3 separate regions of the Homo sapiens genome follow, and regions 1 and 2 are each linked to region 3. Evidence: fine-mapped expression QTL. A gene starts in region 3. Each other region holds a variant in brackets. All regions are shown on one strand. Distances are from middle to middle.

Region 1 (8,187 bases), 100 kb before region 3:
TCGTGATTATACTCTATGTAACTTATCTGTGAAACTGCCTTGCAAATCTCAGCACCTGTTTTCACTATTGGGCTATTTACTGTCAGCTGTTGACTTTTATGAACAGTGGTTCTCAAAGTGTGGTCCCAATATCAGCAGCATTCAAGATCACCTGAGAACTATCTGTTGTGATCAGATGGTACTTAACAGCCTGGGCTTCAGAGGCAGACAGACCTGGGTGTGAATCTCCATACGACCAATTGTGAGTTGTGTGATAGTGGACTAGATATATACTTTGCTGAGCCTTGGTTTCTTTATCTGTAAAATGCTGTAATAATACCTTGCTTACCCAGGGAGTCTCTGCGTCTTTCTCTCTTGCCCTCAAGCCTTTCTGGATTTAAGGTATGGCTTTTACCACTATTTCCTAGGGCCTCACTTTTTACTAAGTTAGGCTGTATACTAAGTTATGCCAAAAAAAGAAGTGTTTTTTTTCCCATAAATTTTTCCCTCAAAGAGTTGTGGGAGGAAGGGAATCTGATGTGTATAATATAGTTGAAAAACACATCTACGGTAGATCACAAACCATGTCTACATGGCCATTTTGTGGGTAACAAGAACAGATTCTATCACCTGATTATTAATGCACAAGCCATTAGCTATGCAAATATCTACTTTCTTGTCACTATATGGAATCTGATACCTGTAAAGAGATTTTCCATGGAAAAAAATATGTGCTTGATTTTATTGCTGCGTATCCCAAAACTGAAAAGTTTTTGCTACAAAATTGTGTATGCTTCAGAATATAAGAATGCTATCGCTGATTGGCTGTGGATAAAGCTCTGTGCAAATAAGGAATTATGCAAGAAGTAGTTACTGGCCATCTATGAGATTCAAGATATTATTGCTTGTATTCCCTTTGAAATTGAAAATTCAAAATAAAGACAAGACAGATAAAATTGTATTTTTTTATATTTTTTAAGTTATGGGGATGAGCTATGTTTGAAAGGTGAAAGAAACCTCTAGATTTTATATATATATATATGTAAAATCTCTAGATTATATATATATATGTGTGTGTATGTGCCACTGCACTCCAGCCTGGGCAACAGAGTGAAACTCTGTCTCAAAAAAAAAAATAGATAAAATACGTTTTTTATAAAATATTTATTTATTTTGAGACGGAGTCTCACTCTGTCACCCAGCTGCTAGAGTGCAGTGGCTCTATCTCAGCTCACTGCAACCTCTGCCACCTGGGTTCAAGCGATTCTCCTGCCTCAGCCTCCCGAGTAGCTGGGATTACAGGCATCTGCCACCGCGCCTGGCTAATTTTTGTAGTTTTAGTAGAGACGGGGTTTCACCATCGTGGCCAGGCTGGTCTTGAACTCCTGACCTCGTGATCCACCCACCTCAGCCTCCCAAAGTGCTGGGATTACAGGCATGAGCCATCACGCCTGGCCATAAAATAGTTTTAATGCATAGCTGACCTTGAGGCAAAATAAGGAAATCCGTAAGTGTCCAGAAATAACAAGAAAGTACACACCTACACACAAAAAGAGTGAGAAAAGTTGAACAAGCACACAAATATGACAAGTATTTATTGAGAGCCAAATGTATGTCAGGCACTTATTGCTTTGTGCCTGGGGAACAGGGGCAATAAAGTAGAAAATAAAACAGGCATGGAATTGGCCTCACAGATCTTAAAGTCCAGTGAGGCAAACGAGTTTCATAAGAAACACATGTATATTTAAGTATTTTCAAAAGTACTGTGAAGACAAAGAACACGGCAATTTGAGAGAGAAAATAACAAGTGACGCCTGCTTTAAAATTATCTGCCGGAAAAGGACTCCAGAGATAGTGCCACTGGAGCTCAGGAAGAGTTAATATGTTCAAGAAAATGCAGGAGGGCATTTCTTTCAGGTAGATGCCTAGGCTCTGCCTACTTTGCATGCTTCTATCTGACTATGTAAGGCAAAAATTTATAGAAGTATAATCATGCCTTTGCTGCAAAATGAGAAATAGACATTTAAGAAGAAATTTCCATCTCATCGAATGAGCATTTTGGTGCTATAGTAATTGTTTCAATTTAAAACATTCATTTGTACATATTTTCTTTCTTTTTTTTTTTTTTTTTTTTGAGATAGGGTCTCACTCTGTTGCCCAGGTTGGAGTACAGTTCACAATCAGCTCACTGTAACCTTAAACTCCTGGGTTCAAAGGATTCTCTTGCCTCAACCTCCTGAGTTGCTGGGAATACAGGCACACACTGCCAAAGCTGGCTAATTTTCAAATTTTTGTACAGATGGGATCTCACTATGTTGCTTAGGCTGGTCTTGAACTTGTGGCCTCAAACAGTCCTCCTGCCTCAGTCTCCCAAAGTGCTAGGATTACAAGTGTGAGCCACCACACCTGGTTTATATATATTTTCAATAGTTTTAATAAAATATGTTTATATTTAATAAGATATATTTATACAAATTTTCAGTAGTTTTATAACAACAAAGTCCCTTAGAGGCAGAGGATAGACTTTTTTTAAATTTCTGAGACATGGTCTCACTCTTATCACTAAGGCTGGAGGGCACTGCATGATCATTGTTCACTGCAGCCTCAACCTCCCGGGCTCACGTGATCCACCCACCTCAGCCTCCCAAGTAGCTGGGACCACAAATATGTGACACCATGCCCAGCTATTGTTTTTAATTTTTTTTTTTTTAAGACATGGTGGTCTCACTACATTGTACAGGCTGATCTCAAACTCCTGGTTTCAAGCAATCTTCTGGTCTCAGCCTCCCAAAGTGCTGGGACTACAGGCATGAGCCACCACACCTGGCTAGAGAACAGACTTTTAACAACAAAAAAGTACTTTTTATTCTAAGGTTGAATTTAGGAGGCTGTATAAAGTAAAGGTGGGTAGATGAGACTGATTGCTTACAGAAAGCTAGCTTTGTGTGCTGGACTTGATACTATTACAGGTTTCTTGAAAGATCTGGGAAAAATGTTTAAAATTGCAACTGGAAGACATTTGCTAGACTAGAAATGGAGACTCCTAAGCACTCAGGAATTCAGCAAATGGCTGCTGGTTGGGTTTTTATTTTTATTTTTTGGATTTAAGATACTATCGAACTCTAGTTTAGTTCTTTCTGAATTGAAGACAACTAATTGATGGGTATGTTTCATATTAGTAAAAGCAAAAAGCTTATTAATTTATATTTTACATTAACAAAACCCATAGAGGGAAATTCTACTTTGCCTTTGTAACCCATATGTCAGCTTGGGCATCCCTGCCCTGTAATAAAAATGTAATTAATGACATTCTCCAAGAATCGTTGAGAATTCTCAGATGGCTCATTTTTCATGGTCATTTCTGCTGTTGCCTGGGATGAATTAGGTATGTTTATGAATCATCTTTCATTTCTCATGGGCTCCATACCAAGTTGATCCAGACCAGGCCAAGGCCCTTTCTTCAGTTGTCATAAATTTAGAATCAAACAACAAAAAGAGAGAACACTTGCCTCGGACTGCCTACCACTCACAGGACTTGCCTTTACCTCCCACACATGAATGCCCAATCTTTCAATAGGTCATCCTCTACCCTGTTAATTGAGGTTTTCTGTGTTTATTTTTCTCATCATTTTAAGTCTTCCATTTATTGTAATCTAGGAGAAAATGAGGTCACTGAGTTTGTTAATTCATTATGCTGAGTTTAGTACACAAATTCTAAGCAATATTTCACAGACATGGCTTTTTCTTGGTGCAATAAATATGGGCTTTTGTAAACTGTTTTTTGCTTTTTGGTCCCACAGCTATGTTTTGGATGGTTAAAGATGCTAAAAGTCTAAACCCTCAATTGCAGGTTACTTGTAGGTTTAGTTGTTATACCTGTACTGGGAGGTAGCATAAGGCAGTAAAAAGAACACTGATGCTCTAGATACTCTCTCCTCAATCAGAGAGATAGAGCTTGGTAGAGAGACCATGGCCTAGTTACCTAACCCATATGAGTCTTGTTTTTATTATTCATAAACTGTATCTGATAATAATAGCTATTTCATATGGATTTGCAAAGATCAAATGTGATCCTAAGTATAAAATAATGTTTTATATTGTGCAATATA[A/AT]TTTTTTTTTTTTTTGAGATGAAGTCTAGCTCTGTCACCCAGGCTGGAGTGGAGTGGCACAATCTCTGCTCACTGCAACCTCCACCACCCGGGTTCAAGTGATTCTCCTGCCTCAGCCTCCCAAGTAGCTGGGATTACAGGCACCCGCCACCATGCCTAGCTAATTTTTGTATTTCTGATAGAGATGGGGTTTCACCATGTTGGCCAGGCTTGTCTCAAACTCCTGACCTCAGGCGATCTGCCTGCCTCGGCCTCCCAAAGTATTGGGATTACAGGCATGAGCCACTACTCCCGGCTAAATGTTAGTTTTTTATCAGTAACCTCTCATTTCTTTTACCCAGGTATGTTATTTTGTTCGTTATCCCTAGGCAAGACCCTCTAGATTGCCTGTAACAGTTTCACACTCTTATCAAGGATGTATATATTCCTGCATTCTCTTTTCTATAGTTAGTCATCATTTCATTAGAAAGATATTTAAGAATTCACATTTATATTACAACATTTAATTTGAAAAAAACTTTTTGCGGGAAAGGAAAGTATAATCAGAAATTCATCTATCATCTTAAAGTCCTAGGTTTCACCAGTCTGTGCCATATGTGTTCACATTAACTCTCCATTCTGCATGAGTTGTACTAATGTGGGTGCTGAAGGAGATAAACCCCCCAAATCAGTAGCTTAATACAAATGAAATTTGATTCTCAAACACAGTAGGTGTAATTGGTAGAAGGCATTGCACTCCACAGTCATTCAAGGATCCATGCTAAGGGAAGGTTGCCATCTTCTACACATGGCTTCTAAACCATCCAAGGTCTCTCTGGATGACAATAAAAAACTGTCAGTGGGGTAAAAGAGGCACTGGACATCATGTGGAAGGTTTTTGTGGCCCAGGCCCAGAAGTGCCTATCACATCTGTCCATATTCCATTCTCAGAACTGTCACTGGGCATCTAACCACAAGGATGGCTGGAAAATGCATAGCTGTGTGTCCAGGAGAAAAGGAAAATAGGATTGTTGAACAACTAATGAGGTTCTGCCATGGCCTTCTTTTTAGGTCGCCAAATATCTGCTTTCCTCTCTTTCCCACACATAGAAGACACTCATTCCTACCCCAGGGTCTCATACCATTATTGCATCCAGTCCAAAGTCCAAGGGGGAATAGACTATCCTCTCTATCAGATCCAGATATTTCAGCTTCTGGTTTGGTATTCTTGGATAAAAAGGTGAATTTTCTGCCTCCCAATGTTGAGGTAGAAAATGTCTCTGTTCTATCTCTTGTCATTGTAGAACAGCGAAGTTGAAGAAAAAATAAAATCAAACAAACAAAGACACCTTCTATTCAAAAAAGAGAAGACAGGCAGGCAAGCAGCAGTCCCTAGAATATAACCATAAGGAAATCCTGATTAGCGAGTATTGAGAAGCTTCCTACACTGGGAGTGGGGAAATTCCTTAAATAGCCTCTAAATCTAATCTCTGGGAGGAACCTTCTTTTCCATTATTATTTGTGGTGGCTCCATCCTCTGGAAAGTTCTTCCTTATTTCTTATTCCCTGGCTGTCACCTCTGAAGTGGCTGTTAAGAAGTGTGCTCTTCTTGCGATCTTTGGCTTCATAACTCATTCTGCAAGAGTAAAGACGGAAACTAATGGGTGTTTTAGGTTTAAGGTCTGTCATTTGCGGACTCTGGGGCTGTGGGAGAAAAAATAAATCGTTTGGTTCATGCACACAATGTGACAGCTTGGCATAAGTAAAAGACATGAACAAAAGGATTAATGAAGAAGTGAAAGAAAGAAGGTGTATACATTAGGCACAACATCACCTAAAAAAAAAAAAAAACTGGAATGCATTAAACTTGTTCATTCAATAAGTGTTGGCTGAGTGCCTACTAAGTGTCAAGCACTGAACCAGATGTGGAGGATTCAGTGGCAACACACGGAAAAGTTAAAGGAAAAAAAAATTGGGTAATAAATTTGTTATTGGTTTTAGCAAATCCAAAAAATTCAAGAAAATAGTGCAGTGTTTGCCAAATCTAAAACTCTTTCACCCTCACTGAGTCTTAAATTAGGAATGCACAAAAGCAGAATTACTAGAAAATCAAAGTTTTATGGGTGTATTCCCTTAAGTAATAGCCCTATATTGGAAAGTTGGTGGAGGTGACTGCACATTTTAAATAACCAACCTGCACCTTTACCCCCTCCCCCATATCCTAACCAAATAAAGTATAAAATGAGGTAGAACTCACCATGTTACATCAGCTTGCCAGGAATGAAGTCAATGCTGATTGGAAAAGTGTCAAGCAATAAAGAAGAGTTTGGATTTATCTTTAACACTGTCTTCATGTCACTCGAGACTTTAATTTCAGCCAACTCTACTTCTAAAACCAACCTCTTATGCAATGATCCTGTCTGGGTCAGAGTTTCTTCTGGTAGGCATCAGATTCTGCAAATATTTATTATCTCATGTTAATCAAGTCCCCCTCTAGATTCTGCCATTTAACTTTAACGAGTTTGACACAAACAGAGTGATTTAATGCAGTTGTAACTTATTCCTAAGTAGGGCCTGGTATAGCTTTTAAGCAATACATCTCTCCAGTCACACATAATAATGAATGAATTCTAACTCACTGCAAGTACTACAGTGTTCCTGAAGGTAATAAACCATGTCAGCTATGTGAGGCTTGGAAATTTTTTTTTAAAACATAGTAACCAAAAATGTTACCAGTTGGCCTTTGATTACAACTACATCCCCCAGGAAATGTGATCAAAAGGACATCTGTTCTATGTATCAAAATTCAGACATCTGCTTCCTTCTTTTCCTTTTATGGTATGCATAGATATCACATCTGACTTCCAGTTTCCCTGCTGTCAAAGAGAAACTATTAAATGGGAGATGCTCTAGACAAAGGGATTTTAAAAAATCCATTGGCCACAGAGAACTAGAAGTGAAGAATCGAAAAAGAAGATTAATTTTCTTTCTTATTACTAAGTTTCTTAAGTATTTTCAGAGCACTTAAAGGGACATACCAGTGGGGGGAAAGTATATGAATTAATGGCAGGATTCTTGAGGACTTTCTCACAAAGATAATTAAGGTGTCACTCCAAGACAACAGCCAGAGACACCACAAATAATGTATAGATATTTTTATTGTAGTATTACTTATAGTAAACTTGGATCCAATTTAAATGTTCCACAATAGAGGAATGACTAAATAAACAATATATACAAGTGTTAGACAAGTATCCAGGCATTAAGAATCATGTTTTATAAAATAGTAAATGACACAAAAAGCCTTGTAATATATTGGTGCAAAAACAGATGCAAAACTATATTCAGTATAATCTCAACTATTAGCCCTAAATGTTGTTGTGATCTTGGATTACAATTTTTTTGCATTTTCAAATTTTCAAATTAGAATTATGATTATGCTACTTCTATGGTGAGGAAAAATTACCCTTTATAATAGTGAAAAAATAAGAACAGTAATCTTCTATCTTCCACATTTTCCAAATACGATGAACACATTACACTTTTACAGTGGAAGAAAAGAAACACCTATCTTGTAAAGTAGTAAATAAATCAGAATAAGGCAGAAATCAATCATGAATTTACAAAATTATGTCATCAAGTATAAGTTCAGTTCATTTTTAGTTTTGAAACTGTTTATCAAAATTAAATAGTTTGACTTATTTTTATTAGAAATATGATTCTAAGTATTCAACATTGCTTTTTAAAAAATTATCATCTAGTTTTTCATAAAATCTGAGGAGCTGCTAGGTAAATTTCGCACACCAAATTTCGTGTGTTGAAATGTGAACATGCTCACCACAGACCAAGGGTTTCCGAGCTGCTGTTTCATCTCTTACTTATGGAAAATATGCTCATGTAATTATGAACCAATCAGCTTTTCATTGTGTCAAAAGCAAATGTAGATAGTGCAATTGATATTTTAGCTTTATTATTGTCTTAAATATGTCTTGGCTTAAAAAGACATGGATGGCTTTTCCCCACTATACCAGATAATGAGTTGCAAATAAATCATTCAGTAGTAAAGTTCAAAGAAATGTTGAAAGCATTTCGAGTTTCCTAGTGTCTTACCGATATGTTT
Region 2 (8,187 bases), 80 kb before region 3:
ATTGATTCCCTTGAGTAAGTTGGTCTAATAAAAGGATCAAGGGGCGGGTAGAATAAGTTCCTTTGTTCTCTTTGATTCTTTGTAGCTATTAATGAGATGATGAAGTCAAACACTTTTGAAGCAAAATGTTTTGAAACGGTGCTAGCCTTAGCTACCTTGTCCCTGCTAGTTCTGGTGGGGAATATACTGCTAAAAGAGAAGGGGGATAGAAAATTCTTAAACATTTTGTGGAATTGCGTAGGATTGCATGAGGTACTTGGGAATACTATACATAGAAGTTGTTTCTCACTTCTTAATGAACTTAGCATTGTCACTGGATAAAGCAAGTATAATGTATAGTATAAAAGTTCAGAAGAAAAATGTCTGATTCAGACTGACGTGAGTTTGGCATAGCTCCACCAGTAACTACCTGTGTGACTGAGCAAATTCCTTGCCCTCTCTGAGCCCCAAGTCCTTCATTTGTAAAATGGGCCCATTTTATAGTTGTGAGGTTGAAAAAAGTTATATAAAACACTTATTGCAGTGCTAGGGAGTGTTTAACAGCACTTAATCAAATAATTCATAAAAAAGAACTAGAGGCTGGGGGTGGTGGCTCACGCCTGTAATCCCAGCACTTTGGGAGGCTGAGGCGGGTGGATCACCTGAGTCCAAGAGTTCAAGACCAGCCTAAAATACAAAAATTAGCTGGATGTGGTGGCAGGCGCCTGTAATCCCAGGTACTTGGGAGGCTGAGGCAGGAGAATCACTTGAACCTGGGGAGAATCGCTTGAACCTGGGAGGCAGAGGTTGCAATGAGCCGAGATTGTGCCGTTGCACTCCAGCCTGGGCAACAAGAGTGAAACTCCGTCTCAAAAAAAAAAAAAAAAAAAAGAACTAATGAAGAATAAGAATTGCTCCAAGATCTGGCAGAAGGTGACAGTCTCTTGACTTATTTGGCTGAGACACACTTTCTTTACTGTCCTAGGATGCAAGAGAAATAATGTCTAGGATTTTTCTCTTCTTGCCAATGAGCAGAAACCACTTTCATCTTAAAACACAGCTCAGGTCTTAGAATAAGTTTGTTTTCTGCTTCTTTATTCTTCTGCTCCATTTTACTAAGTTTACCTTGTTTTTTTTTTTTGTAAAAAACTATATAAAAAGTATTATAGCAGAAAAATGGACTATTTCACAATGAATTTGTCACATTATAATTTTATATAATACTGTATTTATATTTAATATATACTCTTTAAAAAGTTTTAGCTAAATCAAGAGTTCATTACCTTCAGGGCAAACATTTTTATCTCCTCCAGCTCTGAGAATAGATATTTTTGTCTGTCATGTAAAAATATCCAGGACAAAGAAGAATGAAAGTCATCTAAAGGATCTGGAGGTTAAAGTTGCTAATAAATGGAGGTTTGCTAAATTGGTACAGAGAAAAATTTTAGAGTGCAGAGTTCATCAGGATAGTGGGAGAAAAAGCAGGTGTATTCTGAGGCCCAAAGTCTAGACAATAAAGTATGTTTAAAGCCTCAGAGCATTTTCAGGATGGAATTGGTTTCTGTCAGTTACCCTCTTATGGTGTTGTCTCTTGGTAAATGTGATGTTTTCATATTTGATATGTCCAGGAGAGGGGCAGACCCCTTTTGATTCCAGATTGTTTCCTGGGACTTTCTCCACTGCTGATCTCTCTAACACCTGACAGGTCATAGTGCAATTTGAGGTAGCAAAAGAGCCTGAGAGTTCATCAGAGAAAAGAAGTAAGAGGCCAGGTGTGTTGGCTTATGCCTGTAATCCCAGCACTTTGGGAGGCCGAGGTGGGTGGATCACCCGAGGTCAGGAGTTCGAGACCAGCCTGACCAACATGGTGAAACCCTGTCTCTACTAAATACAAAAAATTAGCTAGGTGTGGTGGCACATGCCTGTAATCTCAGCTACTTGGGAGGCTGAGGCAGTAGAATTGCTTGAATCCAGGAGGTGGAGGTTGCAGTGAGCTGAGATTGCACCATTGCACCCCAGCCTGGTCAACAAGAGCAAAACTTTGTCTCAAAAAAAAAAAAAAAAAAAAAAGAAAGAAAAAGAAAAGAAAAGAAGTAAGAGTTCACCCATAGTGAAGGGCTTCTCTAGGTACTCCATACCACTTCCTCCCAAACTATATCCAGACACTAAATACCCCTAGGTTTCAAAGAAGAATAAACTCACCTCCCAGAGGAAGAGCTGATTTATCTTCAGGCATTCAGCACTTTCCATCCTCCCTCAAGTATATGTCAACCAGACAAGGCAGGTAATTGCTACATGATTTATGAACAAACTGTAACTGACATTTGTACAAAATTTTTAACCTCCATCTGTCATTTACTGCTCTCCAAGGATAACAATTATTTAAGCAACTAATTAGAACTAGGAATGAAATTATTTTATCTCAACAGATAAATTCTGGGTGCAATTAAGGAACTAAGTTTTTTTAAAAAACAGGGAAAAGTCATACTTATTATTTGCTAATTCAGAATTAATTAGGACATCCAGGACCACCTATCCAGCCTCATCTCTCTCAGTCCTCCCCTTACTTTCATGCTGCAGTCACAAAGAAGTAAGGCCTTCCCTCCTCATACTCTGCCTGCCTTTGCACTCGAAACTCTGTTTGTCCCTAGAGCTTAGTTCCCCTTCTGCTTCACCTGGTTAATTCTTACTCAGATATCAAGGCTCCCCAGCGAAGCTCTCTGGCTTAGGCACCCTTCCCAAGTGCTCCCATAGTACCCAGTGTTCAGCTGTATTATTGCTTGTAACACAGGTCATTCTGAATGTCTGGTTGCTTATCTACATTCTACATTAGACAATGAGCTTCTCAACAGAAGAGAATATTTCTTGCTCCTCTTTGCATCTCCAGCTAGGGACTCAATGCTCACTGAATGAATGAAAAGCTTTTGGTGGCATAGACGATTATTGTTCATACTGTTTTGACTGTTTTTGTTTGTTTGTTTTGACTGAAGCAAGAATAGATGACAGAATTCTGTAACAAGCTGATATTTTGGGATGCAGAAGTCTTATGTATAAAATATCTATCCATATCCCCACATCTTACCCTTGTTTCTGGTTGTTCATTTTTTTCTTCTTAAACTTTGAATGAAACCTGTATGTTAACTTTTGAATAGCACTTTAAATAAAACCCAGCAACCCCTCACCAACTATACCATGATCTACGACTATTTCAACGACTCCTATACCAGATGGAATTTTTGGAAGTTTTAGAATAACAACATTAAAAATCATTCTGAATAAATATCAATTCACCTAAATCCAGGTTTAGTTTCTTTGTTTTAGGAAAATACTTTGTTTCTTTGAGTAATTCTCTATTTAGTAATTGGTCTGTGTTAAAATGGAATTATTTTCCAAGGTTTTTAGGTTTCTATTTCCCCTGGGAGTTTTCCTTTCTTTCAGTGCAACAGAGAAATGCCTGGGGGAA[A/AGTT]GTTGTTGTTGTTGTTGTTGTTGTTGTTGTTAACAGTAACTTCAAGGGGTCTAGTGGCTGCCATTGCTCTTAGTAATTCAGCAGTTCTTATTTATTTATTTATAAGGAACCAGGCGTTAGACAACAAGATGATCTTGAAGCTGTACTCTTGGCATTATATTCTCAAGAAAATCACCATGACGACGTAAAATGAAACTTTATTTTTCCAGAAAATCAGTTGAATGGGAATTCCAGTTCTGGGAAATAAAGAAGGATATGCATTTTTGGCCCGGACCTTTCCTGTTTGCTTGGGCAGCAGTGGTACTGCTCAGTGTTGTTAATAATGGGACTGTGAACTTGAACCCCATGCTTACATCCTGGTCCCAACCTTTGCAGGCCTAAAGTCTCTGCTCATTCAGCTCCCCCCATTTTCTATCCATCCTGTATGCTGAGACTGTCAGGCCTGAGCTCCCTTTCTTTAGCCCCTATCTAAAAACTTTTAGCATTACCTTGGCCCTGAAATATTCCAGAAAGATGAAGTTAGTACAAAAACTTTAGCACATTAGCAGAAATATATTTTAAAAATAACTTAAATCAGGAGTTAATGCTTTTAATGAGTATGACAAGCCTGGCCGTTAATCAGTGTTTAGCGACTCATTTTCCTGGCTCTTATATCTGTAGTTGTCTTCTGCCCCTCATCCCAGCCACCGGTTCCCATTCTGACTCAGCTCTACCTTCATATTGCCAGCTTCTGCCTAGTTGGTATATTTACCTTTGGAAATTTATGTGCATAAATGGATCAGGGATTGCCAGTGAAATTCCAGTTTTCCAGAATAACAGCTTATGTAGAATGTTTATTTTTTAAAATGCACATAACTGACCAAGAAAGGCAGGGTTTTATGGTTGGTGCTTTCCTTATTTTTTAGGTCAAGGTAACTCCTCTTAGGGAAAGCAGTGTAGAAGAAAAGGGCTTTTGTGCCTGTATAAAAACCTGAAATAACTGGAAGCAGGTACTAGAAAAATGGAATCACAAATATTTATTGCTCTATTGAGCATATGTAAATAAATCTGAATTAAGAAGGGAAGGGAGGACATGAATCATTATTGAGCAATTACTGTGAGGAAGACACTTCCACAGACATTTAATTCCATAACGTAATATTGTAAGGTTGATATTATTATCACTGCTATACTAATCACGGAGCAAAAAGCTCAAAATGGCTAAGTAACTCCTTGAAAGTCTCTCAGACACAATTTTTATCCATGGCCACTTGATTCTGAAGCCCATGGTCTTTCCAGTCTACTCACGTACTTGGCAGTGGTAGAGATTAAAAGGTGCTTTCTCGCTGCGTGCAGTGGCTCAAGCCTGTAATCCCAGCACTTTGGGAGGCTGGGTTGGGCGGATTACGAGGTCAGATCGAGACCATCCTGGCTAACGCGGTGAAACCCCGTCTCTACTAAAAATACAAAAAATTAGCCGGGCGTGGTGGTGGGCGCCTGTACTCCCAGCTACTCGGGAGGCTGAGGCAGGAGAATGGCGTGAACCCGGGAGGCAGAGCTTGAAGTGAGCCGAGAGATTGTGCCACTGCCCTCCAGCCTGGGCGACAGAGCGAGACTCCATCTCAAAGGAAAAAAAAAAAAAAAAAAAAAAAAAAGGTGCTTTCTTAAGATATAGACTATGTTCCAAAGAGCTCGTATCCAAGACAAATAGAACACGGCAGAATTATACACGTGTGGTGGTGGGGAAACAGGTCATATTAAGTCTGGTGGAGTGGAGGGAGGCATATGAGAAGACTTGGAAGAGTGGATAGAGTGTGGATAGGTGAGATGTGCACACGTGCCTGGCAGGGCAGCTGGAGCTGGGAAACCCAGGCGTGTTTGGGACACAGCCAGTAGTCCATCTTGGCAGCGCATGTGTTACGTGTAGGGAAGAAGTTAGAGATCAAGCTGGAGGGGAGGATGGGCCATACTGTGGAGATTTTGCATACCATGCAGAGGAATTGTATTTAATTCTCTATGCAGTAGAGATCCATTGAAGGAGGGCCATGTGTGCGCATGCATTTTTGTGTGTAATTTGGGGTTGTTTGCTCATTTGTTTTCATCATGGAAAAATACTGATGAAAGTGGGCTTCAGGAATATTAATATAGCCAGGGGCCGGGGGAGGCAGTGGATTAGCATAGGGAGTAGACGGAGGAAGCGAGACCCATTACCAGAGAGGAGTAGTATGGAAGACTAGAATGAGGGTGAGGCAACAGGTATAAAAAACATCTCCATGTTTTGGGAAAGAAAAAAACAATAGGACATGGCTACTGCTTTGCATATGGGGTTGCACCTATCAAATTAACTCCAGATTAGAACATGCATACTTGTCATGTTTTGCATTTCTAGTACCAGGGATTTAATTCTTTTAAAATTCAATTCTGTTGAAATTTTACTCCATGAAGCAATGCGTTTTTGAGAGCTAATCCTGATATATTCAAATCTCAATGACTTAAGTTTATGGAGTGGACTTCTTTTAAATTAGTGATTCCCTGATTTGCCCGACTGTTGGAATTTCCAGGGCATGTTGAAAATACAGATTATCAGACTCTTAACTCTGCAGATGTATTTAGTGATTCTAAAATGGTACCCAGGAATCTGGATTTTTCCCAGGGGCCCTGTGTAATTCATATTTATGAGCAGGCAAGTTTGGGAAAGACTACCTTAAGGAGGTTTTTCACTGAGCAGTCTTCATTTGAAATGAGGATCATTTATCTTCTTTATCTCTATGCTCCCTCTTTCTCCTGCTCTCCTTGCCTCCTGTTGTCTTTCAGTTCTTAGAAGCTTTAATGGAAAGTTCCTAGTAGATCTGTACCTACTAAAAACCATGCTTCTGAGGCTACACAGTCACCAGAAGACACAGCTAAGCTGCCATGTGAAAAAGGAAAGGTGGCGTGTGCACTGAGGGTGCAGGTGTGAGAGGCAGGGGAATGGAGGCCCCCACAGCCAGCAGCAGTGGCCCTTATCACAGTCCTCTGGGAGATATGAAAGGAGGTCAGATGTTAGAAAGTAGTCTTTTTTGCCTTCGTGCTATAGAACACATTGTTAACACTAAAAAAGCTGACCTCTTCTAGGGGAACGGTGAAAGCTGATTCTAGCACTTGTGCTTTTAATTTCAGGATGGCACAGCTTCAAAATGACATCTATGTAGCTAAGTAAAAATGAGAATTCTGTGTACTTTGATATTAGCAGGCTTTAAATTACAAACCAGAATAAGATTAAATTGTTTCTTAACCAAACTGAGTAATTTTCAAATGGCAGGCCATTGGCAGGGTATTCAGCATCTGGCTCATGTTTGAGCCTGGCTAGGTGCTCCGTAAAAGTCTTGAGGGAAATACAGAGGCCAATTCTCCATAAGCATTAGGCTCAGAAATACCCTGCTTCCCACTGGAAAGTTTAAGTTGACCTTGAAGCCACCTTCACCAAAACGAGGTTGGTCAACACTTTTCACCATTGCCACTGGACACTTTACTTCCAATTTTGCTTCCTGCTCTAAAAGATAACCCCTTCCTTCCTTTCCCACATTCTCCCTACAACCTCGTCTTCTTTTGAGTTCATCCACTTTCTCTCATCATTGTCCATCTCTGCTTCCCAAAACCTTACATAGTATAGAAATTGGCCAATCAAGATTATCATGTGGAAGAACATGCATTTACTGAATAAGGCAGCTGGCTCCTGGGGGCAGAAAGGTGATTAGACACAGTGATAAAAATCATAATCCCTGATCTTCTGGACTCACTGTCTGTCCAGTGGGGAGACAGACACATAAGCAAATACAACTTGATAACTACAACAATCAAGAGAATGACATAATCTACCCTGGAGAAAGAGAGAGCAAACATTATCATAAGACAGTGTGTCCACTACTTACTCTCTAACAGATTTCCTGATAAACTACTAGGCTTGCCCACTTGTTGCATAAGAAAATTGAGGGTATCAGGGGAGGGGAAATACATATGCCTCTTGGTAATTCATTCAGTAAATACATAAATAAACCATTAATGATATAATCATGTTGATTCAATAAGTTTGAAACCAAAATTGATAATATTTAGAAGAAATTGTGTATGTGTGTATATGTGAACACACATAGACATATACATACTGCTTTCTGAAATTTTCAATGACTTTATGCTTCTTCTGAAGCAATTCAAGTTTAGAATTTGAGACCCATGGGTTCAAAACATCTTCTTGAGTATACTGGAGGACATTTAGATTAATTTCAGACATGTATTTTGGTTTATATGTGTTTTTTATCTATGCTAACTTATTTACTGTTTTAAAAACAAATTGAGAACAAACAGCAGCAGCAACCCTGAATTGAGTGTTTAAGTCCTAAGAATGGCTTGGCCCAACCAGTGGATGTGCATGTTTATTACACTAATCTCCTCTGAACCTAGGAAGTGGCTGGATGAGCTTCAGATGGTCTGTTTGGCTGTATTATAAGTGATATTTTATTTTTATTTGTTTTATTTGTTTATTTTTATTTTTATTTATTTTATTTTTTTGAGACAGGGTCTCTGTCACCCAAGCTGGAGTATGGTGGCACAATTATGGCTCATTGGAGCCTCCAACTCCCAAGCTCAAGCAATCCTCCTGCCTCAGCCTCCTGAGTAGCTGGAACTGCAGGTGCACACCACCATGCCCCATTAATTTTTTTACATTTTTTTTGTAGAGGCAGGGTGTTATTATGTTGCCCAGGCTGGTCTCAAACTCCTGGACTCAA
Region 3 (8,187 bases):
GAGACTCCCTTTCAGGTTGGAACACAGACATTATCAACACTCACTGTAAGTAAAGTCACACAGCCTATATTTCATCATTGTATCCATCTGAATATAATGAGACTATTAAATGCTTTACCAAAATTAAAATACAGAATTCATGAACTTTTTATAGTCTGCTCAGTTAAGTTTAATTCTCCAAAGAAAAATGAAGACAAAAGTTATTTCCTGCTACCCAAGTTTTGAGTTAACTTCTATTTTTAATACATATTTGGCAATATGAGAAAAATTTAATTGGTTAATACATATGGCCAAGTTGCAGTCTGAACTGTGTCAACTCACAATTTGATACGTTGAACAAGATATGTTGAAGTCTCAACCTCTGGTATCTATGAATGGGCCTTATTTGGAAATATTTGAGTCTTTCAGATATAACTAATTAAGATGAGATCATACTGGATCAGGGTGCTCCAAAATCTGAGACTGGTGTCCTTTTAAGAAGGCCATGTGAAGACACAGAGAAACACAAGGGAAAATGCCATGTGAAAACAAAGGCAGAGACTACAGTGATGTGTCTACAAACCCAGGCATAGCAAGGATTGCCCAGAAGCCAGGAAGAGTCAAAGAAGGATTCTTTCCTAGAGTCTTCAAGTCTTGCTGACACCTTGATTTCAGACTTCTAGCCTCCAGAACTGTGAGAGAATAAATTTCTTTTGTTTTAAGCCTCCCAGCTTATAGTAAGTTGTTACAGCAGCCCCAGGCAACTAATACAGGCAATATAATTCAGGCCATCGCTGAATATCAGAAATAAAAGGTAAAACTACAACCTATCTGTAATTTTAAATTACTTGATTATATTGCATTAGAATACTTTACAATAAAAAACATTTTATAAGATAGCTTAGCTTTACTTTGCAAATACTAGATAGCAACCCCCCAACCCCCTCAATTGTACTTATTTTTACCTTAAAATTTGGACCTTTTACAACAGAGTTAAATATTATGTTTGTTTACCCCAACATAATTCAAATAAACCTAATGACATTCTAAGTGACAGAAAGGTTTACTTGGAAGCCAAGGAAGACAATATAAATGTGAGTTTATAATCAGAAAACCCTGATTACCTAGGCACTTACTAGTTGTGTGACAAGTGTGGAAAGATACTCAACTTCTTAGAATCCTCTCTCCATAATTTTATTTTAAAAGATGGGCAGCAGGACATAATGGCTACCTCACAGTGTTAAGATAAAAATGAGGCATGTAATATCTATTTCTAATTCTCTGAAAAAAAGCAAAGATTTGTAGGATATTTGAGATTTAGTTGTTAAAGTCTTTGAGGAAAGTGGGAGAGTATGTGAGGTTAGTTGACAATCTCCTGAAGTTAGGATGGCATAAACTGATAAGACTAAAAGTTAAGAGAGACTATAGAGTGATAACAGAATAACCTTAAAAGTGCCTAGTAGCAATGTGAAGCAAGGACAAGTATAATCCTCCTCAAAGAACAACTAGACTATAGTAGCTCTCAATAAAAGTATAGAAAATTAAAGTTAAAAAGTATTAAGGAAAAGGTCAGGGACACATGAAATATATTTACAATAGAATGAATGTTCTCAAAAGCAAAGAGTATGGGGGTTAATAAGGCACTCAGAGGGTAGATCTGAGCCACACTACAACGTGACTATATAGAGCAATAGAAAGGAAGAACTTATGCTTTAGTCATTAAAAGAGGATAATAATTTAAGAAAACAAGCAACTGGATAATGGGAGTTTAAGGACACATTAACCACACCAATCAGAGTGTTTAATCAATCTGGAGTTCAGAAAGATATTATTTTAAACAATATCTTCTTCAGTCTACATTTTGACTAAGTAACAAGGCAACATTTGTAACTACAGATGTTAGAAAATGAAAATAAAAAATAACAAGAGCTAACATGCATTGAGTGTTTACTGTGTGCCAGGTATTGTTCTAAATGCTTTGTATGTTTCAACACATTCAATCCTCACAACCTTCCTATGAGTTAAGTATCATTATTTCATTTGGCCGATGAAGGAACTAAGGCACAGAGAGGTTAAATAATTTGACCACTATGACATTAAGAGGCAGAATTACAATAAATATTGGGAAACTATTAAATAGGATTTTTAGCAGGCACTGACTGCCTAAAAGTAACTTCTGGTAAAGAAAAAAAAAATAGCCATTTCTTTCACTTAAATCATCAATCCCCAAAGAAAGAAAATGTGTGGGTGGTTGTTGTTGTTTCCCTAACTCTCGTTGTTCCAGACTAGGCCTGATTTCCTTTGAGAGATCTTTCAAACTTGATATATTTTTATGATTTGTACCAGGAAGCCATTATAACACGCAACTGTATACTAAAGTTCACCATCATTTAAAAAAAAAAAAAAAATCCTCCTCTCTCTATCCATCCCTGCACCGCCAACCCCCACCCTCCCAAAAAATCAGAATTTTTTTCCTCATGTTTTCCACTAGAACTGGCATAATTACAACAACTTAAAGATATCAACAAACAAATTAGGTAAATAACCATGTCTTTTTTCAGTGAACAAGCCAGGCTCATTCTTTATAATTGCTGTATACTGGAGTCCAATGTATCAGGCTAGGCAATTAACTGAAATACTGAATTACAACTTCAAATGAATAAATCCTGTTTTTAACTGTAACTTTCATTGCTTCTGAAAACCAGTCTGGCAACATTTTAACAGCTATTATGCCACTTTGTCTTTAAGTCTCGGGGGCACTAAAATATAAAAGTTATTTAAACGTGTTTTCTCAAACAATGACCTGTCAACTCTATATACTACAGATAAACAAGGCTATTCTCCACCACGAGTTGACACGTTGCCTTCGGAAGGTTTCCTGCGCCGAGGAAAAGTAGTGACAGTCGAACCTGTCTCTCAGCATCTCGCCCTCCCCCGCCCCCTTCTCATTTTCCGAAGCACTGTGCGAAACTCCTTCCGGGCAAGGCCAAGACTCTTAAAGAGACAGAGGGCAACGTGCTGCCACGAATGTGGCATTTGTCTGAATGGGGGTAGGGAGTCTGACATCCGGGAGGACTGGGACTCGACCGATTGGGATCCTACTCGCCTGCGGACTGGAGAAACCACCTGGGAACCGGGCACTGTGACAAGCAAAGGGTCAGAATCAGGTGCGATCGAGGAAGCACCTGAACTCCTTCGAGTTGCAGGATAGCACACAAGCACCCGGACCTGGCAAAGGGAAGCTCCCAGTAGCATCGTTGCCTAGGGTCCTGCCAGTAACGCCCCCGTGGGAGGTGGAGCGGCTTCTCCGTCCGACCGGCTCTCTAGAGATCAATGAAGACAGGAAGCCAAGCCCATGACAGGCTCCCAGTTCCCTCAATTGCATTTACGCCCTAAACAGCCCTGGAACAACCGAGGGAACAGCACCCAGCGGTGTTTCAGTATTTTACCTTGTGTTATGGTCCCAGCCTACCGCCATGTTTCACAGAAGCCCGGGTCGCCGGGGCTCCCGCGTACCCGGAAATATCGCGAGAACAAAAGCGACTATCACAGCTGAAAACGTCAGAAAAGAGACAATGTACAGATCTCGCGATATTCCCTTTGCTTACGACGTGCTTAGGGAATGAAGAGGCGTGGTTAAGATAAAAGAGGCGTGCCTACAGGGAAATGAGGTTGCAACTTGTTTTAGGTGTAATCGCGCCGCCAGTCCGGTTCTGTTTCTATGGGAAGGGAGGGGTTACTTTCCGACTAACACTGAGACTGCAGAACGAATCTCAGCTCCTCACACCGTATTTCATTACTAATAAGAGCCTTGGGCGCAGAAATTATCCCTAACAACCCTAATGCATATCACCTGTGCAATTGTTTTGTTTCCCTCTTTCAGTTTTTGTGTCGTTTTCCCCTGACAAGAACATTTGAGCTTCCTTTTCCGCCATAGGTAACGCTTTTTATTATTTGATCAGCGTTTTTATTGTCTTCCAGGTTTTAATATCATAAGAAAGCACATATGTCTTCCTCATCTCCCTTCGCCAACACCAACTATGCCTTCAAATATTTGTTAAGAAAGAAAATTAATACCTCATCTTTTTCTACCACTTCATAGAACAGGAGTTAATAGACGGAACTTCGGAAAGAAAAGTTAAATGTGAACTCCTGGAGAGTAAACCCATTCCAGGTTCCTTTTCACCCATCTGTTACCAGATTTTATAATCAAACATTGAGATTTAAATTTTCTGATTCATTGACCTAGAAGTCTAACAACGGCATAATTATGACAACTGCTTATAATTACTGTTTAAAGGCTTTAACTGCTTTTTTAAAAAATCTGCGTATCCTCACAACACTCTTAGAAGATAATACCAGTATTTACCTGTTTTATAAATACGGAATTTGAGTCAAGGGGTAGTGAAGTGATTTACCCAAATTCAGACCGCTGGGAGAGTCAGGGAAATCTTGATCACAATACTAAACTGTGCCTCAAAGGAAAAAAATCACATTGTTTTATGTAGTGAATTAACCTTTACTGAAATACTAAATTTCACTAAATTGAATATCCCCCAAAATAAGGACTGATGAAAAGTTTCCAATGAATCAATTTTATTTTCAGACTTTCAGAGTTAGTCTAATTAAATCAATTTAAAGTTCTCACTTTCTTGACATGCTTAAGAAGTATAGTGTAGTGGGTGAAATCATAGACACTGGAGACAGGACTTCCTGGGTTAGAATTCCAGATCAGCAACTTACTAGCATGTAACCTTGACCACATTATTTCATCTCTTTGTGTCTCCATTTGCTCATCTGTAAAATGGGCATGATAATATCTCAGAGTTGTTACGAGGATTAAGTAAATTAATATACATCTAAAATGCCTTTTTTTAATCTTTGCCGTAAAGGCATCAGCAACTCTTCCTTCTTTGTGAATATGGGCTCTTGCTTGGATGGAGGCTGGCTGTTGTTCACTTAGTTACATCTGATCCCTCATCTCCTGGATAACCTACTTTCAGGGTAACAACTATCCCATGAGAGTTGGATTTCCCAGTGTAGCAAAACTGACTAATTTGATCCTTCTTATTTAGAAAACAACTCACCATTTTCTAATCTACCCAGTGAAGAGGGAACTTAATTTCCCCTGAAGATTGAAACTCTCGGGCTGCAGCTAAAGCCGCATTCTTTTCATTAAAGGCCAGGGTTTGATCTAACAGTAGCACGACATCTCTGCAAGCGAGGTCAAAGGTTTGCCCTAGACCCTGTAGGACATCTATGTACCTATCAGGATCATCTTTAAAAAGAGATAGATACTTAATCTTGTGTTATCAGTGGCGTTATGTCTGAAAAACAATTTGCTTTAAAAAGTCCATTATGTATTACCCGCATAAGATAGGTTTTAGACTGAGATTAATAATTGTTCCATAACAACCTGTATTTAGTAAAGATGATCAAAAGGTGTTTTTGTGCCATTTTTTTCTTTCTCTAGTTCGATTGAATAATTCATGGGCTTTTTTCTAATTCTCCTTAGTCCTTCTAGAACACAGGTCAACAGATGTTTATGACTTCAGTCCCCATGATCTGAGTCAAGGTCCCAGTGGGGATCCATACTGGGGATGGCTTGCTGACCAGTCGGGAATTTGTCCCTTTCTTCGGCTGTCATTCTGTCATTTACTTGACTAAGATACCAGGTATCTCCAAACTCTTGGGCTGCAGCTAAAGCCGCATTCTTTTCATTAAACGCCAGGGTTTGATCTAACAGTAGCATGACATCTCTCCAAGTGAGGTCAAAGGTTTGCCTAGACCCTGTAGGACATCTGTGTACCTATCAGGATCATCTGAAAACTTCCCCAGGTCTGCCTTGATCTGCTTTAAATCAGAGAGGGAGAAGGGGACATGTACCCGGGTTGGGCCAAATACCCCTCCCGCTATAGCTTGAAGGGGACATAACCAATAGCCCGGGGTTTTTTGTGGTCCTTTGGAGATTTCCTTGCTTGTTTCCTTCTGGCCAGGGGAGATTAGAGGAGGATTATCATTAATAGGAAGGGGAGCTATAGGGAGGCTAGGATATGGGGATAAGCTGAGAGATCCTCCTGTGGGATATAAATTGTAAGCTTTGCATAGTTGTGTATTCTCCCTCAATGAAAATAAAGCTTGGACATGAGGTATTTCACTCCATTTGCCTTCCCTCTTACAGAAAAGATCAAGCTGCAGGATAGTATTGTAATTTGTACTTCCCTCAGGTGGCCATTTTTCCCCATCAGAGAGAGAATATTGGGGCCAAGCCGTAGTGCAGAAAAAAATGAGCCGCCTCTTTTTCAGGGTTTGTGGGTCAAATTGGTCCCAATGGCTTAGGATGCATTTCAAGGGTGAGCCTGTTGATGCCTGAGTGTTTCCCATCTGAAAGACAAAACTGCCGCGTTTTGGTTTATTTTGTTTCTCCCCCTGCCCAAGAACCTACAACGGTCCCTGGACCCTGCTGATCAGAATAGTTGCGCTCACCAACACAGCAGCAGAAACAACCCCTGCCCAAGAACCCGCAACAGTCCCTGGACCCTGCTGATCGGAATAGTTGCGCTCACCAACGCAGCAGCAGAAACACTAGTTTTCCTCCCAGACCACATGGAGGACCAAGGAAAGTCAGATTTAGCGGTCCTTACCGACGCATTCTCGAAAACCTGCACCCTTGCCTGTCCTCCTAGGCCACAAGGGGGACCAACTGAGAAAAATCGATTTAGTGGCCCTTACCGACGCATTCTCGAAAAGCTGTTAGAGTCCTAAGCATTCTCCTGTTAGTACTGGGACTTTACCCCTGTCCTATAAAGATGTTATGCCCCAAAAATGAAGTGGAGGGCCATACCCTGAGGGAGGGAAGGGATCTCCAGGTTTGGAAGAGTGACACCTTTTGTCCTCACTTATATGAATAGGAAGGATATAATTTCTGAGGCTCCCCATATCCTAGCTTCAGGAATAGCTTTTGTTAGGCCTGTTAGTCTGAGGAGGGATCCTAAAATTCCAGGTAGTCCCCACTACGATGGGGCTTTGGGCAAAAATTATGTCTTTCTGATTGGTGAGCCCGGGTGCCTAAAGAAGGTAACAGAGTCCTGGAGTTTATACTAGAAATCATTCTTATAGGAGAAACTAGAAAAGCACCAGAGACGGTAGCAATTTTTAGAAGCGGGACTAACCTCAGAGAAGAGAGGCAAGAGGAAGTTTGTCTGACAGGCATTAGGACCCAGGGGGCAAGGGTCAGGATAGATAGGATAGATGGGCGAGTCTCGCTTGGGCGACATGCTTTTGAGAGTTCTGCTCATGGCCGCAGGGTCAACCAACTTGTTGTCGGGACCCCAGAGCTGCATGGCTTTCCTCTCTGTCGACCCTCGGCTCAGCCCAGAAGTACTGGAAAAGCAGAAGCTGGTTCTAGGGAAAACAATGGTCCCAACTCCGAAGAGTCGGGGGTTGTTATAGAGCCCTTTCCCAGAAAACCTGACACCCGTGTCTTTAGTCCGGTGGCCACGCTAGTCGCTTTTAACTGGCCAACAGGTGCCCGGTATTTAGCCCCCAAATTCTAAGGAAAGATAGGACAGAATAGCAAGCTAAAGGGGTCCGATGGTACTCACTGCTTGGCAATAGGTGATTGTCTCACCGCTCAGCAATAGGCGATGGTCTTACTGCTTGGTGATTGGCGAAGGTCCCATCTGGGTCGCCAAAATGTGTCTGGAATTGGTGGGTTCTTGGTCTCACTGACGTCAAGAATGAAGCCGCGGACCCTCGCCGTGACTGTTACAGTTCTTAAAGGCGGCATGTCCGGAGTTTGTTCCTTCTGATGTTCAGATGTGTTCGGAGTTTCTTCCTTCTGGTGGGTTCATGGTCTCGCTGGCTCGGGAGTGAAGCTGCAGACCTTTGCGGTGAGTGTTACAGCTCTTAAAGGCAGTGTGGACCCAAAGAGTGAGCAGTAGCAAGATTTATTGCAAAGAGCGAAAGAACAAAGCTTCCACAGTGTGGAAGGGGACCCGAGCAGGTTGCCACTGCTGGCTCAGGCAGCCTGCTTTTATTCTCTTATAAGTCCCCACCTACATCCTGCTGATTAGTAGAGCCAAGTGGTCTGTTTTGACAGGGCACTGATTGGTGCACCTACAATCCCTGAGCTAGACACAAAGGTTCTCCACATCCCCACCAGATTAGCTAGATACAGAGTGTCCACACAAAGGTTCTCCAAGGCCC

Alleles and levels. Alleles are on the strand shown, and positions count from the first base shown. SD is a standard deviation of normalised expression in the study named. Not every link is listed here.
For the expression in macrophages of the gene that starts at base 3,486 in region 3, A is the high allele of the variant in region 1 and AT is the other (moderate effect, 0.46 SD a copy in Nedelec 2016).

What was found. PIP is the estimated chance that this variant, and not a neighbour inherited with it, causes the effect.
Region 1: its variant is fine-mapped to the expression of ERGIC2 in macrophages (Nedelec 2016, PIP 0.95).
Region 2: its variant is fine-mapped to the expression of ERGIC2 in whole blood (INTERVAL, PIP above 0.99).

The regions. Positions count from the first base shown.
Region 1 is chr12:29,275,840-29,284,026 of GRCh38, forward strand. All of the region lies in intron 2 of FAR2 (fatty acyl-CoA reductase 2), which reads left to right. It overlaps FAR2-AS1 (FAR2 antisense RNA 1), which reads right to left. Exons shown (of 7, transcript NR_103860.1): 6 at 6,325-6,521; 7 at 4,576-5,703. Among named protein-coding and RNA genes, the nearest start is that of FAR2-AS1, 38 kb to the right of the region's middle. The variant A/AT (reference allele first, on the strand shown) is at 4,089.
Region 2 is chr12:29,297,187-29,305,373 of GRCh38, forward strand. FAR2 (fatty acyl-CoA reductase 2) reads left to right here. Exons shown (of 12, transcript NM_001271783.2): 4 at 1-14. All of the region lies in intron 3 of FAR2-AS1 (FAR2 antisense RNA 1), which reads right to left. Among named protein-coding and RNA genes, the nearest start is that of FAR2-AS1, 17 kb to the right of the region's middle. The variant A/AGTT (reference allele first, on the strand shown) is at 3,443.
Region 3 is chr12:29,377,687-29,385,873 of GRCh38, forward strand. ERGIC2 (ERGIC and golgi 2) reads right to left here and starts at 3,486. Exons shown (of 14, transcript NM_016570.3): 1 at 3,429-3,486. RefSeq lists an enhancer at 3,049-3,218.